Linked DNA regions of Homo sapiens. The protein of the gene in region 1 purifies or fractionates together with the protein of each later gene. This does not show direct contact. Each region holds a gene or a part of one and is shown in the gene's direction. Other genes may lie near its edges. The genes, in order: ACOT2 and ZNF331.

Evidence for each region.
Region 2: the proteins of ACOT2 (region 1) and ZNF331 purify together in Homo sapiens (co-immunoprecipitation; one large-scale study listed by IntAct). This does not show direct contact.

What each region holds. Positions count from the first base shown.
Region 1 is NC_000014.9:73,571,938-73,576,194, forward strand, and holds the end of ACOT2 (acyl-coenzyme A thioesterase 2, mitochondrial), read left to right. Parts: intron 1-1,450; coding exon 1,451-1,653; intron 1,654-2,348; coding exon of another isoform or gene 2,349-2,432; exon of another isoform or gene 2,433-2,470; intron 2,471-2,970; coding exon 2,971-3,576; 3' UTR 3,577-3,718; downstream 3,719-4,257. UniProt on the Homo sapiens protein: Catalyzes the hydrolysis of acyl-CoAs into free fatty acids and coenzyme A (CoASH), regulating their respective intracellular levels. Displays higher activity toward long chain acyl CoAs (C14-C20).
Region 2 is NC_000019.10:53,572,608-53,576,421, forward strand, and holds part of ZNF331 (zinc finger protein 331), read left to right. Parts: intron 1-3,814. UniProt on the Homo sapiens protein: May be involved in transcriptional regulation. May play a role in spermatogenesis.

The sequences.
Region 1 (4,257 bases):
TTAATAATCAAAGAAATGCAAAATAAAACAACAGAGTACATTTCACACCCTCAGAAGTGGCCCACTTTTAGAAGCTAGCATTATCAATTGCTGACCAGTATGTGGAGGAAATGAAACTCACTGCTAGAAGGAGCAACATATTCATCTGCTCTGGGCAACAATTTGTCTTAACTTACAAAGTTAAATATGTTATTCTACTTGTACATGTGCACCAGGAGGCATATTCCTTATAAGAGGCCAGATGAGCAGTCTGGATTAATTTAAAAAAAGAGCAAAGTCAACTGGAAACAGTCCAAATGTCCATCAACAATAGAACAGATTAATAAATTGAGGTATATTTCCAGCAGTCAAAGTGATTGAACTACAGCTACAAGAATCAACATCTATCAAGATATACAAAAGAAAAGAAAAAAAAAGAATCAACATGGATGAATCTCCAAACCACTGTTGAGTGAAACAGTCAAACCCTAGGAGAACACATTCAGTATCATTCCATTTAGATACAATTCAAAAACTAGGCAAAATAAAATATTAAGGTACATAATCTAAGTGGTAATACTATGAAGAAAACCAAGAGTGATACACAGAAAGTCCAGGATACTGGAAAGAGAGGAAAGGGCACAGGGGTCTGTGGGACGTTGATGGTTTGCGGGTATCAGCACTGAACTATGTCTTAAAAGTGTTGCCTGTAAGGTGTTTGCATTTTTTTTTTTTTTTTTTTTTTTTTTGAGACAGTGTCTCGCTCTTTCGCCCAGGCTGGAGTAGTGGCACAATCTTGGCTCACTGCAACCTCCACCTCCCGGGTTCAAGCGATTCTCCTCCCTCAGCCTCCCGAGTAGCTGGGATTACAGGTGGCCGCCACCACACCCAGCTAATTTTTGTATTTTTAGTACAGATGGGGTTTCACCATGTTGGCCAGGCTGGTCTCGAACTCCTGACCTCAGGTGATCCACCCGTCTCAGCCTCCCAAAGTGCTGGGGTTACAGGCGTGAGCCACCGGACCCAGCCTGCATTATTACTATTTAATTTTGTGTGAAACACAAAACCTTTAATGTAAATGATAAAAATATCAGTAAGTGGAGTCATTCAGAATGAGTAGCCTTTTGAGTCTGTCTCCGTTGAGTAAGTGCATTCTGTTGAGTGCACTGGAGAGGAATTTGTGCTCTTCTATGTAGCAGTCTTTCTTTTTGTTTCTTGGTGGTGCACCATTAAATGGATTCATTCACCAGTTAAAGGACATTTGGGTTGTTTCCAGTCTTTGGCTACAACGAGTAAAGTCACTATAAACACTTGCCAGAGGTTTCTGGACGAACAGGTTTTCATTTCTCGTGGGTAGATACCTAGGAGTGGGATTGCTGGGTCACATGTGTGGTAAGTATATGTTTAACTTAAACCATCCAACTGTTTCAGGAATAGCTTAGTTTTGCATTTTGTTTTGTTTCTTCCCAAGAACCTGGGCCCTTTCCTGGGATTGTGGACATGTTCGGAACTGGAGGTGGCCTGCTGGAGTATCGGGCTAGTCTGCTGGCTGGGAAGGGTTTTGCTGTGATGGCTCTGGCTTATTATAACTATGAAGACCTCCCCAAGACCATGGAGACGCTCCATCTGGAGTACTTTGAAGAAGCCATGAACTACTTGCTCAGTCATCCCGAGGTTAGTTCTTCTTTCAGATTTATGGGCTATGATGTATCAGGTCTCTTCTTAAATGGTCTGGGTTTTCACAGAAGTTAGCTCATTCATGACAGCCATTCCCTACCCCAACACACACTACCTTTTTTAGTCACTTCTTATAGACAGTTTCTTTTTTTGAGATGGAGTCTCACTCTGTTGCCAGGCTGGAGTCCAGTGGTGCGATCTTGGCTCACTGCAACCTCCACCTCCCAAGTTCAAGTGATTCTTGTGCCCCACCCTCCCGAGTAGTTGGGATTACAGGCACCTGCCACCATGCTTGGCTAATTTTTGTATTTTTAGTGGAGGCGGGGTTTCACAATATTGGTCAGGCTGGTCTTGAACTCCTGACCTCAAATGATCCACCTGCTTTGACCTACCCAAGTGCTGGATTACAGGCATGAGCCACTATGCCCAGCCTAATATTTGTATTTTTTTTTTTTTAAGTAGAGATGGGGTTTCGCCATGTTGGCCAGGCTGGTCTCAAACTCCTGACCTCAAGTGATCTGCCCACCTTGGCCTCCCAGAGTGCTGGAATTACAGGCATGAGCCACCACACCTGGCCTCTTATAGACAGTTTCTATTCAATTCTATATTACTATATTTCCTGCTAGTAAAGAGATTCGTAGTTGTTATTATGCAATTTTAAATTCCAGTATTTTTTTTTTTTTTTTTTTGAGATGGAGTCTTGCTGTGTCACCCAGGCTGGAGTGCAATGGCATGATCTCGGCTCACTGCAAACTCCACCTCCCAGGTTCAATTGATTCTTCTGCCTCAGCCTCCCACGTAGCTGTGACTACAGGCACGTGCCACTACTGCCCGGCTAATTCTTGTATTTTTAGTAGAGATGTTTCACCATGTTGGCCAGACTGATCTCAAACTCCTGACCTCAAATGATCCACCCGCCTCAGCCTCCCAAACTGTTGGGATTACAGGCGTCAGCCACCACTCCCGGCCATGAGATGATGTACTTGTTGATGATGACTCAGTTTAGTTATGACAGTGGGAATGGGTGGCTCAGGTGGGAGACAGAAAAAGATCATGGGAGATACGAGATTAAGGAACTGAGAAACCAGAGAATAATTGATAGATCTTCCACATGGTTATCACCAAGAGTGGTGATGGACAAATTGTGGAAAGGAAGAGATAGAGGGGAGGTAAATTCTCAAAGTTGCAAATCTGGGTAAATGGTAGAACCTAGATTCAGACTCAGGTTCAACTAACTTCCAGGGTGGACACAACTCACCATATTCCACTGTTTGTGGAATCATTCTTCTTCTTTTTCCTTTGTCCCTTTCTCAGGTAAAAGGTCCAGGAGTTGGGCTGCTTGGAATTTCCAAAGGGGGTGAGCTCTGCCTTTCCATGGCCTCTTTCCTGAAGGGCATCACGGCTGCTGTCGTCATCAACGGCTCTGTGGCCAATGTTGGGGGAACCTTACACTACAAGGGCGAGACCCTGCCCCCTGTGGGCGTCAACAGAAATCGCATCAAGGTGACCAAAGATGGCTATGCAGACATTGTGGATGTCCTGAACAGCCCTTTGGAAGGACCTGACCAGAAGAGCTTCATTCCTGTGGAAAGGGCAGAGAGCACCTTCCTGTTCCTGGTAGGTCAGGATGACCACAACTGGAAGAGTGAGTTCTATGCTAATGAGGCCTGTAAACGCTTGCAGGCCCATGGGAGGAGAAAGCCCCAGATCATCTGTTACCCAGAGACAGGGCACTATATTGAGCCTCCTTACTTCCCCCTGTGTCGGGCTTCCCTGCATGCCTTGGTGGGCAGTCCTATTATCTGGGGAGGGGAGCCCAGGGCTCATGCCATGGCTCAGGTGGATGCTTGGAAACAACTCCAGACTTTCTTCCACAAACACTTGGGTGGCCACGAGGGGACAATCCCATCAAAAGTGTAAATTTTATTTGATCATGTGGCCTCTCTGTTGCTAATCTCTCCTGGAAACATCTGCCACATTTAGTGTGTGTATGTGTATTCATTCTTTTGTTTTTAATAACTAAAGTTTTTTCCCCTCATTATTAAAATGAATTTACCAGTAAGAATGAGTTTTTAAGATTTTTATAAACTGTATACTTTATCAGTTTGGGAAGGGAGTAACTGTAGGAAACACAAGAAGTGGAAAAAGTCTCCTCTTCCTATCTCAACACACAACTGATAAGGCTTTAGTTCTGAAAGGAAAAGTGAGTAACATCAATTAACAGTGTCTGGTACGTAAATGGAGTTCAATAATTATTTGCTGAATGAGTATAAGTGAGCCAGGCGTGGTGGCTCACACCTGTAATGCCAGCACTTTGGGAGGCTGAGGTGGGCGGATCACTTGAGGTCAGGAGTTTGAGACCAGTCTGGCCAACGTGATGAAACCCCATCTCTCCTAAAAATACAAAAAATTAGCCAGGCGTGGTGGCAGGCACCTGTAGTCACAGCTACTTGGGAGGCTGAGGCAGGAGAATTGCTTGAACCTGGGAGGCGGAGGTTGCAGTGAGAAGAGGTTGCAGTGAGAAAAGATTGTGCTACTACCCTCCAGCCTGGGCAACAGCAAGACTCTGCCTCAAAAATTAATTAATTAATTAATTAAATG
Region 2 (3,814 bases), on another chromosome or scaffold:
ATATTATATATACACATATATACATATACAATATATACATATATAGTATATATTATATATATAAACTGCTTACTGTGTGCCATGCACTGTGCTAAGCACTGTGTGTGTAAGTACATTGCATTTCGTTCTCACAGGCAGATGAGACAGGCACAATCATTGTCTATTTTGGAGATGAGGATACTGAAACACAGTGATGCAGTCAGACGGAGGGAGCAGGAGCTAGAATCAGATTTAACAGTTTTGGTCCCCAGATTCCTTGCTGCCAGCCACCATGTTCCACTTGCCTCCAGGCATAATGCCTACAGAAATTTAAAATATGACCTTTTCTCGGCCAGGCGCAGTGGCTCACGCCTGTAATCCCAGCACTTTGGGAGGCTGAGGTGGGCGGATCACTGGAGGTCAGGAGTTAGAGACCAGCCTGGCCAACATGGTGAAACCCTGTCTCTACTAAAAATATAAAAATTAGCCGGGCATGGTGGCGCACGCCTGTGATCTCAGCTACTCCGGAGGCTGGTGCAGGAGAATCATTTGAACCTGGGAAGCAGAGGTTGCAGTGAGCCAAGATCACGCTACTGTGCTGCAGCCTGGGCAACAAAGCGAGACTCTGTCTCAAAAATAATAAAAAATAAGGCCGGGTGCGGTGGCTCACTCCTGTGATCACAAGACTGGCAGGCCAAGGCAGACGGATCACGAAGATAGGAGTTCGAGACCAGCTTGGCCAACAGAGTGAAACCCCATCTCTCCTGAAAATACAAAAATTTGCCGGGTGTGGTGGCGCATGCCTGTAATTCCAGCTACTTGGGAGGCTGAGGCAGGAGAATCACTTGAACCCGGGAGGTAGAGGTATAGCATTTCTTTTTTTTTTTAAGTTGAGATTTTTTTCTTTTTTTCACTCTGTTACTCAGGCTGGAGTGCAGTGGCGCGATCACAGCTCACAGCAGCCTCAACCTCCTGGGCTCAAGCAATCTTCCTGCCTCATCTCCCTGAGTAGCAGGGACCACAGGTGCACACCACGACACCCGGCTAATTGTTGTGTTTTTTCTTAGAGATGGGATTTCGCCATGTTGTCCAAGCTGATCTTGAACTCCTGGGCTAAAGGAATCCACCCACCTCAGCCTTCCAAAGAGGCTGGATTACAGGCGTGAGCCACTGCACCTGGCTCAATAGCATTTTGACTTCTGGTTGTTATAAATTTGATTAATACTCAATCAAAAAAAATTTAAGGCCAGGCATGGTGGTTCACGCCTATAATCCCAGCACTTTGGGAGTCCAAGGCGGGCAGATCACCTGAAGTCAGGACTTCAAGACCAGCCTGGCCAACATGGTGAAAACCCGTCTCTACTAAAAACACAAAAATTAGCCGGTGTGCTGGTGTGCGCCTGTAATCCCAGCTACCCAGGAGACTGAGTGAGGCAGGAGAATTGCTGGGACCTGGGAGGCAGAGGCTGCAGTGAGTCAAGATCATGCCACTGCACTCCAGCCTGGGCAACAGAGCAAGACTCCCTCTCAAAAAATAAAAATAATTTTTAAAGAATTTTTGAAGTTTTGAGCTTGAAATTTTTCCTCAAGTTCTATGTCCTCTAGCATTTCGTTTTTTTAAAGGAGGGCATATAATTTCTAAGCCAGAGGTACTGTCTTATAGAATTAAGGGAAAGAGCCTTGATGGTTGTGAGGGAAGAGACAAGACAACAATACGGAGGAAAGTGGGAGCCAGTCAGCCACCCGTACAAAGAGCATCCCCACAGGGCAGGGAACAGGCACACCCTGAGGTGTTGGAGAGCTTTCTCCAAGAGCTCAGGCCCAAAGCCTCTAGGAAAGAAAGATCTTACCACGAACTTGATCTTCACCCCATTTCCCTGTCACCTTGTTTTTCCTGTCATATTTAACCCCATTTTATGTGCTGCTGGTGCTGCTGGTCTGTGGGCCACGCCTTTAGTAGCGGGTAGAGGTGACAGGGTCCTCTGCCCTTTATCATTCCTGAAAGTGGGTTAGCCTCGCTTTAAGTGCCCGTTTTCTTTTTCTCATATCTAGGTGTTGGCAGTACTGCTTCCCGGGTGTTGTTAATGTGTCACCACCATGAAGCACCTGGTGTCTGGTTGTAGCTCCTCTTTGCCATTGGCAGTCATTGGCACTGCTTACATTCATCACACTGGGGGCTCAAATGGTGCGCGCCTATCACTGCCCCTTCATTTATCAGCTGTTATAATTTAAAGAGAAACTTTGTTTCATCTGCTAATTGCTCATGCAGTGGCACTGTTCATATTGGATAAGAAGGATAAAAACTTTGTTCTTTTTCTTTGTCAGTTTTTATGTTGTATTTTTTTCTTTTCTTTTTTTTTTTTTTTTTTGAGGCAGGGTCTTACTCTGATTCCCAGGCTGGAGTGCAGTAGTGCAGTCTGGGCTCACTGCAGCCTTGACTTCCGGGCTCAAGCCATCCTCCCACCTCAGCCTCCCAAGTAGCTGGGACTATAGGTGTACACCACCACACCTGGCTAATTTTTGTATTTTTTTTGTAGAGACAGGGTTTTGCTATGTTTCCCAGGCTGGTTTTGAACTCCTGAGCTCAAGTAATCCACCCACCTCGGTCTCCCAAAGTGCTGGGATTACAGGCGTGAGCCACTGCACCTAGCCAATTGCCAGTTTTTATAATAAAGGTCTGGTTTCCTAGCGTGTTCCAGAGCTGGCCATTTAACATTTTGTAGTATCATTATGAACTTATAGATTTAAACGTTTGCTGTTTCTCAGTCCTTTGCAGTTAGCCTCCTTATTGATGCTCAAGTTCTAAACTTTTCCTTATTGTTCTTCTAAACTTTTTCACATTTTTTATTAAATTTAGTCTCGTAAATTATCTTTTTTGTTGCTTTTGAATGTTGTATTCTTTTACCCAGTTGCTTTTTTTTTTTTTTTTTTTTTTGAGACGGAGTCTTATTCAGTCGGCTCACTGCAACCTCCACCTCCCGGGTTCAAGCGATTCTCCTGCCTCAGCCTCCCAAGTAGCTGGGATTATAGGCTCACACCACCATGCCTGGCTAATTTTTGCGTTTTTAGTACAGACAGGGTTTGTTTGTTTTTGTTTTTTGTTTTTTGTTTTTTTGATATGGAGTCTAGCTCTGTCACCCAGGCTGGAGTGCAGTGGCACAATCTCGGCTCACCGCAACTTCTGCCTCCCGGGTTCAAGCGATTCTCCTGCCTCAGCCTCCGGAGTAGCTGGGATTACAGGCACCCACCACCATGCCCAGCTAATGTTTGTATTTTTAGTAGAGACAGGATTTCACCGTGTTGGCCAGGCTGGTCTCGAACTCCTGACTTCATGATCTGCCCACCTCGGCCTCCCAAAGTGCTGGGATTACAAGCGTGAGCCACCGTGCCCAGTCTGTTTTTTTGTTTTTGTTTTGAGACAGAGTTTCATGCTTGTTGCCCAGGCTACAGTGCAATGGCATGATCTCGGCTCACTGCAACCTCTGCTTCCCAGGTTCAAGCAATTTCCCTGCCTCAGCCTCCCGAGTAGCTGGGATTACAGTCATGCGCCACCATGTCCGGCTAATTTTGTATTTTTAGTAGAGACAAGGTTTCTCCATGTTGGTCAAGCTGGTCTCGGACTCCCGACCTCAGGTGATCTGCCTGCCTTGGCCTCCCAAAGTGCTGGGATTACAGGCGTGATGAGCCACCACTCCCGGCCCTTTACCAGTTACTTTTAATAATACTACTGACATATACGTGTATCAGTTTCAGAATGCTTTACACACAGCCATCCAACTGCATATTGTTTTGTTACAGTACTTCTATATTTGGTTTTCCAAGTATATCATCACAT